2 separate regions of the Homo sapiens genome follow, and region 2 is linked to region 1. Evidence: fine-mapped expression QTL. Tissue or cell type: whole blood. Region 1 holds a variant in brackets; the other region holds the start of a gene. All regions are shown on one strand. Distances are from middle to middle.

The links. PIP is the estimated chance that this variant, and not a neighbour inherited with it, causes the effect.
Region 2: it holds the start of RPS14, and the variant in region 1 is fine-mapped to the expression of RPS14 in whole blood (TOPMed, PIP above 0.99).

What each region holds. Positions count from the first base shown.
Region 1 is chr5:150,424,803-150,430,694 of GRCh38, forward strand. No RefSeq gene overlaps it. Among named protein-coding and RNA genes, the nearest start is that of CD74, 15 kb to the left of the region's middle. RefSeq lists enhancers at 3,016-3,517, 3,518-4,017, 4,656-4,705, 5,046-5,095. The variant G/A (reference allele first, on the strand shown) is at 3,458.
Region 2 is chr5:150,447,798-150,453,233 of GRCh38, forward strand. RPS14 (ribosomal protein S14) reads right to left here and starts at 1,942. Exons shown (of 5, transcript NM_005617.4): 1 at 1,906-1,942. RefSeq lists enhancers at 1,459-2,397, 2,011-2,330.

The sequences.
Region 1 (5,892 bases):
TGAGGCTGAAGTACTTGGAGGTAACATGACATGATGTTTGAACTTATTTTCACATTGTTTAGAGAAGAGAGAGAGAGTGGCCGGGTGTGGTGGCTCATACCTGTAATTTCAACACTTTCGGAAGCTGAGGTGGGAGGATTGCTTGGGAAGGCAGCTTGAGGCCAGGAGTTTAAGACTAGTCTAGGCAATATAGAGAGACCTTGCCTCTTAAATTTTTTTTTTTAATTAGCCAGGCATAGTAGTGCGTGCCTGTAGTCCTAGCTACTCAGGAGGCTGAGGCAGGAGGATCGCTGGAGCCCAGGAGTTCGAGGTTGCAGTGAGCTGTGTTCATGCCATGGCACTCCAGCCTGGGTGACAGAGCAAAACTCTCTCTCAAAAATAGAAATAAAGGCCAGATGCAGTGGCTCACATTTGTAATCCCAGCACATGGGGAGCCCAAGGCAGAAGGATTGCTTGAGCCTAGGAGTTCAAGACCAGCCTGGGCAACATAGTGAGACTCCATCTCCACAAAATTTTTTTTTTATTATCTAGGCCTGGTGGCAAACAACTGTAGTCCCAGCTACTCAAGAGGCTGAGATGGGAGGATGGCTTGAGCCCAGGAGATGGAGGCTGCAGTGAGCCGTGATCACACTACTGCACTCCAGCCTGGGTAACAGAGACCCTGTTTCAAAAAACTAAAAATAAAGACCTAGGCATGGTGGTTCATGCTGTAATTCTAGCACTTTGGGAGATCAAGGCAGGCAGATCACTTGAGCTCAGGAGCTTGAGACCAGCCTGCGCCACATGGTGAAACATCATCTCTACAAAAAATAAGCCAGATGTGGTAGCACGTGCCTGTAGTCCCAGCTCCTTGGGGAACTGAGGCAGAAGAATTGCTTGATCCCAGGAAGTCAAGGCTGCAGTGAGCCAAGATCATGCCACTGCACTCCAGCCTGGGTGACAAAGTGAGACCGTGTCTCAAAAAATAATAATAAATAAAATTAAAAGTAAGAGGTCAGACACAGTGGCTCACATCTGTAGTTACAACCCTTTGGAAGGCTAAGATGGGAGGATCCCTTGAGCCTAGGAGTTCAAGACAAGCCTGGGCAACATGGAAAGACCCCATCTCTACAAAAAATGTTAAAAAAAAAAAAAAAAAAAGAAAGAAAAAAGAAAAAATGAAAATAAAAAATTCACCGGGCATGGTGGCATGTACCTGTGGTCCCAGCTACTTGGGAGGCTGAGGTGGGAGGATCACTTAGCCCAGGAGATTGAGGCTGCAGTGAGCTGTGTTGTGCCACTGCATTTCATTCAGCCTTGGTGACAGGAGAAGACCCTGTCTCCAAAAAAAAAAATAAAACAAAATAATAAAATAAAACACAGAGAGAGAAGTGAAATTGATAGTAGTTGAAGCTAAGTGGTGGGTATCTGATCAATTTTTCTGTATGTTAAATTTTTTCTTAATAAATGGTTAGAAAAAATTTTAAGTCAATTATGTACAAACTCAGTTTCCTTTGTACAGGAATTGTCCTCACTGCCAAGAAGACATTGTTCATTCCCATTGTGGTTATATTGACAACTGGGGGACAATGGGCTCTTTTACAGCATAGGCACATAATGTGTGTGTGGTTTTTTTTTTTTGAGAGAGAGTTTCGCTCTTGTTGCCCAGGCTGGAGTGCAATGGCGCGATCTCGGCTCGCCGCAACCTCTGCCTCCTGGGTTCAAGCGATTCTCCTGCCTCAGCCTCCCAGCCTGTAGCTGGGATTACAGGCATGCGCCGCCCCCGCCCAGCTAATTTTGTATTTTTAGTAGAGATGGGTTTCTCCATGTTGGTCAGGCTGGTCTTGAACTCCTGACCTCAGGTGATCTGCCCATCTCAGCCTCCCAACATGCTGGGATTACATTATGGTCCCCCATGCCTGGCCCATAATGTGTGTTTTAATCCTCATCAAAATGTCTCAGTACTTTATGAGAAGTTTTCTATTTTGTTTTTCAGTTTTGTGTTTTTTTGTTTTGTTTTGTTTTGTTTTTGTTTTGTTTTATGGAGTCTTGCTCTGTCACCCAGGCTGGAGTGCAGTGGCGTGATCTTGGCTCACTGCAACCTCCGCCTCCCGGGTTCAAGTGATTCTATTGCCTCAGCCTCCCAAGTATCTGGGATTATAGGTGCCCACCACCATGCCTGGATAATTTTTTTTTTTCCATAGAGATGGAGTTTCACCATGTTGGCCAGGCTGGTCTTGAACTCTTGACCTCAAGTGATCCGCCCACCTCAGCCTCCCAAAGTGCTGGGATTACAGACATGAGACTCTGCCAGTTTTCTATTTTCATAGGAAAAAAATTCTAAGTCAAACCACTTACCAGATGTATGATTTTTAGCAAGTTACTTAAATCCTTTGTGCCTCAGTTTCCTCACCTGTAAAATGGGCATGCTAATAGAACCCATCTCATTGGGTTGCGAAAGGATTGAGTGAAGTAATACACACATGGCTGGCATAGAGACAGCGTGCAATACATGTCAGAGAGTTCAGCAATATGTTCTTTTCCATAAACCTGTTCATTCTGAATCTGGGACCCTGTGCATGTTCAGAGATTTGGAGCTGCTCAACAGAGCCAGAGGGAGCCTCATCCTCCCTCTCTGGACTTTCCTGGGGGTCTCATCTCGGGAGTCTCATCCCTGGTGTCACCCCTGAGCTAGTCTGAGTGACTCTCTAAGATGCCTGCCCTCTTTTGGTCTGGACACTCCAGGCCCCAGAGGTGTGAGTTCCTACCAGTTCACCCTGGGTGAGCCGGGCAGGTGGAGTCTCCTGAGACCTCCCCTTCCCCATTCTCCTTCTTGGTCCCTGAGTCCCTGATGAGCTGCCTCAAGAAGCAGGCAGGCAGTGTGCACCCAGCCCTGCCCACCAGCCCACATGGCCCAGCCCACCCATCTTGTGTGGGGCCTCTTGGACCCCAGTACACCTTGGCCACGAATAAGGGGCTGGAAAGGGGGCTGTTTGTGTGGAGGGAGCAGGCCTGGGCTCTAGTCCTATACCTTCCATATGTGCCCCAGGCAAGTATACATCATCCCTTCTCTCACTTGTTCAGCAGTTATTTATTGAATACTTTATGCCAGGCACTGTTCTAGGAGCTTGGGATACATGGATGAACAAGGCAGACAAGTATCCCCATCCGTATGGAGTTTACATTCCAGGGGCAGGAGACAGGTCAGTAAATTATACTTTTGTTAGAGAGTGGTAAGTGCTATGGAGGAAAGGAAAGTTGTTTCTGGAGATGCAGGGTTGGGGGCAGGTTGTAGTCTTTGATAGGGTGTTGGGATGGGCCTCATTGACAAGGTGAGATTTGAGCATAGGCCTGAAGGAGGGGAGGAAGTTCACCAAGCCCACAACCGGGCAGAAATCACAGCCAGAGCAGAGGTCCCATGGTGGGAATGTGTCCGGCCTGGTTGACGAACCACAAGGAGGCCAGCATTGCTGGGGTG[G/A]AGCGACTGAGAGGAAAAGGGAGAGGGAGGGACAGACGGGAGGTCACGAGGTGTGCAGCCAGATCCTGCAGCCACCCACTGGACTTTGGCTTTATGCCGAGTGAAGCCGGGAGCCGTGGGAAGGCTCTGAGCAGAGGAGTCGCCTCCTGACTCTTGCTGTGAAAGGGTGGCTAGGGCTGCTGCGTGGGGGATCTGTACAAGATGGGCAGATCATCCCCGTGCCTCATGGGCTGCTGTGAAGGTCACGGGGGGACACTGGACAAGGAAATGCTTAGAAACAAAAGGCCCTGACTGTGGTTACAGGGCTTCCAGGAGAGAGAGCTGAGTGGCTCTGCTCACAACCGTCTTATTGAAGGGTCAGTGGAGCTCAGGAGAGGGTTATAATTTGCCCAGGGTCATATGTTCTACAACCAATTCAAGATCGGGGACTTCCCACTCTTCTCCCAGGGCAAATACCATCTGGCAGGTGGCTAAGTAGTGCAGCCTTTGGACCTGTGATGGCTGTAGTGCGGCTGACGGGGACTGAGTCCTCCCTTGAAAATCCATTCACTCCACAAATATTTGTTAAGTGCCGGTTATGGGCCAGGCACTGATCTGGACTAGAAGCTGGGACCTAGAGATATTGGGAGACACCTGGCAAGGGCTAAGTCCTGGTCTCTGGTGGGGCTGGTTTCTGGTGGGGCTGGTCTCTGGTGGGGTTGGTCTGTCTCTGGTGGGTTTGGTCTGTCTCTGGTGGGGTTGGTCTCGTCTGGTGGGGTTTGGTCTCTGGTGGGGCTGGTCTCTGGTGTGGTTGGTCTCTGGTGGGGTTGGTCTGTCTCTGGTGGGGTTGGTCTGTCTCTGGTGGGGTTGGTCTCTGGTGGGGTTTGGTCTCTGGTGGGGTTGGTCTGTCTCGGGGCTGGTCTCTGGTGGGGTTGGGCTCTGGTGGGGTTGGGCTCTGCTGGCGCTGGTCTCTGGTGCGGTTGGTCTGTCTCTAGTGCGGTTGGTCTGTCTTTGGTGGGGTTTGGTCTCTGGTGGGGTTGGTCTCTAGTGGGGTTGGTCTCTGGTGGGGTTGGGCTCTGGTGGGGTTGGTCTCTGGTAGGGCTGGTCTCTGGTGGGGTTGGTCTGTCTCTGGTGGGGTTGGTCTCTGGTGGGGTTTGGTCTCTGGTGGGGCTGGTCTCTGGTGGGGTTGGTCTCTGGTGGGGTTGATCTCTGGAGGAGTTGGTCTCTGGTGGGGCTCAGTCGGTCTGTGCAGGAGTCAAGTGTTAGAGGCCACACTACTGAAGGCTGGTGTTGGACTTAGGGTCAAGAGTCCATCTGGGGCTGGGGTCAGGTCACAGCTGGAGTCAGGCAGCCCAGTCAAGAGGCTGTGGAAAGTCAAGCTGGAGAGGCAAGGCCTGCTGGGGGCTGTGGAGGTCAGGAGAAGGCCACACACCACGGGCCAGACTGTGTATGGTAGGGGTGGGACCAAGGTGCCACTGAGCTTTTACGTTTAGGTGGCAAAGAAGATGATGTCATTCATAAAAGCAGGAAGGCATTAGTTCATTTGAGGAACAGAAAGAGTGCAGTGCATCTGATGAGCGGGGAGAGGCGTTTCAGATGAAGAGACAGGCTGGGACCAGGTCATGTAGCCTGGTAGTCTCTTGGGGAATTATTCCAAGAACAATGGGAAGCCCTCAGAGGGCCAGGCAGGAGGTTCTGGGTCTGGTTTGTCTTTGAAAATTATGCGTAGCACACAGATTTAAGGGGGCCGGAGGCCAGGCATGGTGGCTCACGCCTGTAATCCCAGCACTTTGGGAGGCGGAGGAGGGCAGATCATGAGGTCGGGAGTTCGAGACCAGCCTGGCCAACATGGTGAAACCCCATCTCTACTAAAAATACAAAAATTAGCCCGGCATGGTGGTGCACATCTGTAATCCCAGCTACTTGGGAGGCTGACGCAGGAGAATTGCTTGAACCCATGAGGCGGAGGTTGCGGTGAGCAGAGACCACGCCATTGCACTCCAGGCTGGGTGACAAGAGCAAGACTCCCTCTCAAAAAAAAAAAGCAGGGAGGGTGGCTGGGGGGCAGGAATGGGACCAGGAGACCAGTGACGGGCCAAAGTAGTTTAGAGATGGTGGTGACTTTGAGTGGTGGTGGAGAAGAAGAAGGGGGCAGATTCCATAGCTGTCTTGAAGGCAGAAGTGTCAGGATTTGCCGTGGGAGGAAGGGAGAAGGAGGTGAAGGTAGTGCCCAGGCTTGGGGCTGCGCAAGGCATGGTGCTGGCCTCCACTGAGATGGGGAGATGGAGAACACCTTCTGGAGTAGGTAGAAACCAGTTTTGTTCTGGCTGTCTTCTGCTGTGGCACTCATCTGTAGCCACCAAGTAGGTGGCTGAGGATGCACACTGAAACTTCCTAAAGAGAGAAACGAACATGTACCTTTGTGGGTTATCAACGTGCCCCCATACTTAAGAGTG
Region 2 (5,436 bases), 23 kb after region 1:
TGGCTATTAAATGAAACCCTAGTCCTGCTTCATGTCCCTGTCTTCTTCCATCCAATACTCTACTGTATTCTCTCATTTCTGCCTCACTAAAACTTCTTTCTCCTTGCACTTGGGGGGGTATCAACTGTGGCCACATGGCAAAGTACCATGAGAAGTATCCTTTCCCCAGAAACTACCAACAGCTCAGCTCACAGCACCTACAAGATAGAAGCCTAGGGATCTAGCAGCAGATGCCTGAAGGCTGCACCCCAAAAGGCAAGAAGAAACCCAAGACCAACAGCTACCCATGTACTGGTACCATTCCTAACACCCTTCATGGGGCGAGGGAGCTGCTTGATTCCTGCATGAACTCCTCAGCTTAGAATTCAAGGGACCCTTACCAACACAGCCCTCAAGCCTCTCATCTCCTGTTTTCCTGTGCTCCACCTGATCCCTTCAAAATGTTCAAAAATGCAACTGATTTGACTCCCACAACTATTTAGAACTAAATCTTTGTCACCAACATCAAATATCAAAGGCACTAAAATATATCCAAAAGGCAGGCTAATGGAAAAGACCCATCTCAGAAATCTGATGGGTCCTGAGACTAAATAACTCTAACCTATTATGACCTTCATAATAATTGCAATCATACTGTCACAAGATCTAAGGGAGAGAGAAACTGACAGGAGGAAGGCGGGTGAGAATGAATGAGAAAGTGGAAGGCTAGGATAAGACTGCTTCCGGCCTAAAGCCCCAGGCCTTCTGAACCTCCTGGTGTTCAGAACAATTTAACATTTTCAGAAGACACTAACACTAATCGATATCCTGCAGATGGTGAAGATAGAGAGTGTCTCAGCCTATGGTCACAGTAAAGACAGTGGCAAAACCAAACATAGAAACAACGTGTCCTGACTCCCAGCCCAGCACTCTCTGCCTCCTGCCAAGATGCCTCTACACCACAAATAACTACCCTAGTCTGTCTCAGGTGTTCCTAGATCTCTCCTCTGCCTTCCCTATATAAACTTTAGTTAAGTGTGTGACCACAGTAAGTACTTCAAGTGTAAGTCTTGGGTGTACGAAGTTAAATGTTCCTATCTTCAAATCAGACCAATGAGCACGACCCAGTGCGTTAACTATTGTAAGGAACGCGCCACAGGAGAGAAGCCCAAAGTTCTGCCTCGAGAAGCATAGAAAGGCTCCAGCATATCTCAAATACGTAAGCATGAGTATGTTTCGGCATGATGGCCATTCAGTAAATGCCAATTTGCAGTTTCTCCGTTCCTAACATCCCCTAAAGTAACGAGCAGAGTGGTCATCAGGAGTATATAAACGCAGGGCAAGCGCACAGCAAACATTGGTGCTGGGCCCTGAGCGCCCAGAACTTGCAACGTGCCCGACTCAGCAACGGAAAGAATCGCCCAGATTTAGAAGCATCCAACATAGTGCGAGAGTTTTCCCTGCTTTCCTTCTTTGAATGATCACTACAAACCCATGGGATCGGTGCTATTGTTATTCCTATTTTGCAAACGAGGAAACAAACGAGATTAGGCGTGGGCCTGCGATCACCAAGAAAAAAGTTTGGCGAGGTAGAGGCGGGAGCCCACGTCTGTCCCGGGTTCCCTCAACTACGCTGTGCAGCTCAAACGCGGCCGTGGCCGTGGCCGTATTGCGGGGCCGAGGCCTTAAAAGGCTGGACCCGCACTCACCCTTACTTCACAAGCTCCTCCCTGAAAGCAAAACGGGCCTTCTGAGACCAGGAACGAACTCAATCCCGAGTTGGCCAGGATCCAGGTGGGCCAGCCGCGCGTCTCTTGCCCGGCACCTAGCTCGGTTCCCACGGAAAGACCCCCGTCTCTCGTCCCAAGCCCCACAGGGTCCCCTCGCCGCAGGATGCCCCCCGATTGTCGCGCCCGGGCCTCCTACCTGCACGTCGTCTCCAGACTCCACACCGGAAAGAGAGAGTGGGAGGGGGCGGAGCGACGGGGGTCACTTCCGTGTCCCGGAAGTATACCTCTGAGGTCACGGGGCGAGGTCGGGTTCCGGAAGACGCCGGCATTATTCCTCCCAAAGAGTTTAAGACTCGTCATAAGGAAAGACGGTTTATTACTTAAGGGAGAGCGAAAAGAGGTAGAGGGCTGGTTGTCGCTGCGAGCGGGTCGGCCTAAGCGACAGTACGAAGCGGCTACACCCGCGGGGTGAGGTGGGCCTGTATTCCATGATGGCGGTGGTCGTGGCTAGACAGACTTCCGCCATCCTGACTCCCGCCCTGGCAGCCTTGGAGCGGCAGCGCCCCTTGTGTGGAGCAGGGGAATAACAACAACAAAACGGCCTTAATTAAAGCTAGGGTGGCGCCGGCCTGTGGTCCCAGTTACTCAGGAGGCTGAGGATCGCTTCGTCCAAGTAGTTCGAGGCCAGCCTAGGCAACATAGTCGGGGAAAACACACCGTAATCACTTACTTTGGCATATTATATAATGGGCAAAATAAGAATAAATTATTCAATATGTATTTTCAGACCGGTCTGGGCTAAACAGTTTATATGCATTGCTTCATTTACTCCTCAAGACATTATCAAATAATTTTGATTTCCCTCTTACAGATAAAGGATGTTAACTGAGAGCACACCTTTGCAGAAGGGTTTGGAATTCTAGCTTCAAAGCCCTCGTGTTTAATAGCTACTTCCACATAGCCCTCTAATAACAATATACATGTATATATTTCGACCGAATCTTGTTCTGTAGCCAAGGCTGGAGTGCAGTGGCGCAATCTCGGCTGACCGCAACCTCTGCCTCCCAGGTTCAAGCTATTCTGCCTCAGCCTCCCAAGTAGCTGGGACTACAGGCGCGTGCCACCACGCCCGACAAATTTTTTGTGTGTGTGTATTAGTAGAGACGGGGTTTTACCGTGTTGACTAGGGTGGTCTGGATTTTCTGACCTCGTGATCCACCTGCCTCGGCCTCCCAAAGTGCTGGGATTACAGGCGTGAGCCACCGTGCCCAGCCTCTAATAACAATATTGAAGGACCTTGAAGGCTTGGGAGAATATGTCGGAGCTGTGGGGAAGGGCCAAGAAGTGTACCTCACAGAGCTAGGCAAGCGGTAGATACATTTTATCTATGTACTATATGTAATATTTATATGGAATATATATAGTATTTTTGTATTACATACTATATAAATATTATAAATATATTTTAAATATATAAATATATCCCGTGGCTCCAGCCTGGGTGACACAGCGAGACCCTGTCTCAAAAAAAAAAAAAATTTATTCTGCTAAACTGAAAAACTCAACATACCTTCTTTTTTTTTTTGAGACGGAGTCTGGCTCTTGTTGCCCAGGCTGGAGTGCAGTGACGCCATCTTGGCTCACTGCAAGCTCCGCCTCCTGGGTTCAAGTGATTCTCCTGCCTCATCTCCCGAGTAGCTGGGATTACAGGTGTGCGCCACCACACCCGGCTAATTTTTGTATTTTTAGTAGAGACGGGGTTTCACCATGTTGTCCAGGCTGGTCTCGAACTCCTGCCTCAGGTGATCCACCCGCCTCGGTCTCCCAAAGGGCTGGCATTATAGGCGTGAGCCAATGCACCCAGCCTCAACATACCTTCTCGTTGCATTGCATTTCTTCGATGATGAGTGACGTCAGACATCTCTTTACGGATTGTTTTAACCATTTGCATCTCTTCTGTGAAATGTCTGTATTTTTTGAAGGAGAGGGCTTTTTTGTTTTAATGAGCTTCCCAGTATGTTAGCAGAGACTGGAGTATTGTGGAGTGAGTTCCGCTTTGATTAAGAGTTGTATTAAACAGACCTCCAAACCTCATGTGGCTTCATGGAGGGAGCAAGCCTTGATCTTATGGCTGAAGGCAGCCCACACAATCACCTCAGGACAAATTTTTCCACAGGGAAGCCTATCTTTATCCCAGAAACCATCAAAGTCACTGCTTTCAAACTCCACTTTATTTAATCAACATATTTATTGTTTCTGCAGTTATTAGCTATGGTTCTTTGGGCAAAAATTGTAACCTCTCTGGGCTTCAGTTTTCTCATCTGTGAAATGGGATGATAATAGCATATTTTTATTTTTATTCATTTTTTTTTTTTTTTTTGAGACAGAGTCTCACTGTTGCCTTCCCCTGCCTCAGCCTCCCTAGTAGCTGGGACTACAGGCACACACCACCACACCCGGGTAGTTTTTTTTTTTTTTTTTTGTATTTTTAGTAGAGACGGGGTTTCACCATGTTGGCCCAGGCTGATTTCGAACTCCTGACCTCAGGTGATCCAGCCCCCGCGGTCTTCCAAAGTGCTGAGATTACAGATGTGAGCCACCGCGCCTGGCCGATAATAGTACATTTTTAAATGTATGTTGAAAACTTCAGGGCTCAGTGGCTCACGCCTATAATTCCAACACTGTGGGAGACTGAGGCAGGAGGATCACTTGAGCTCAGGAGTTGGAGACCAGTCTGGGCAACATGGTGAAACACCTTCTCTACAACAAATAGAAAAATTAACCAGGTATGGTGACCTGCACCTATAATCCCAGCTACTTGGGAGGATCACCTGATCCTGGGAGGTGAAGGCTGCAGTGAGCTGTGATCACACCACTGCACTCCAGCCTGGGCGATAGTGAGACCCAATATATATATTTTTAAAATGTGTAATGAAAACCTGTATCTTTTGTGTTTTGAGACAGAGTCTCACTCTGTCGCCCAGGCTGGAGTGCAGTCGCACGATCTCAGCTCACCACAACCTCCTCCTCCCGGGTTCGAGCAATTCTCCTGCCTCAGCCTCCCAAGTAGTTGGGATTACAGGCGCCCTTCACCACACCTGGCTAATTTTTTGTATTTTTAGTAGAGACGGGGTTTCACCATGTTGTCCAGGCTGATCTTGAACTCCTGACCTCAGGTGATCCACCAGCCTCGGCCTCCCAAAGTGCTAGGATTACAGGCATGAGCCACCGCACCCAGCCAAAAACCTGTACCTTTATTGGACGCTTACTCTTTGTCAGGCACTGAGATACAATCATGGCATTTGAACTGAGACTTGAAAGTAGAGTAGGAATTAGCTACGTGAAGGTGTGAAGAATGGTCTGGGCAGGGAGAATAGAATATGCAAAGGCCCTGAAGTGGGTAGGTGTTTGGAGAACTCAAGGAATTAAAAAATGGCCAGTAGTACTGGGGTGTTGTGAATAAGGGAAGAGGAATGGGGGCTGAGGCTGGAGGGGCAGCACAGCCACTTTCCGTGGGGCCTCACCTCACTGTTGCCATGTCTGCGTTCCCCACCCCACCGCACCCCTGCGCTGTCAACACTGCCAGCACAGGGGTGTACTTACCCTCCCCTCTCAGAGCTCACACACTCACTCAGGGAGCACTCACTGAGCACCTAGGATGTGTCTGACATTGTAAATACTTGGGATACATCAGTGACAAAAACAATGGTCCCTACCCTCTCAAAGT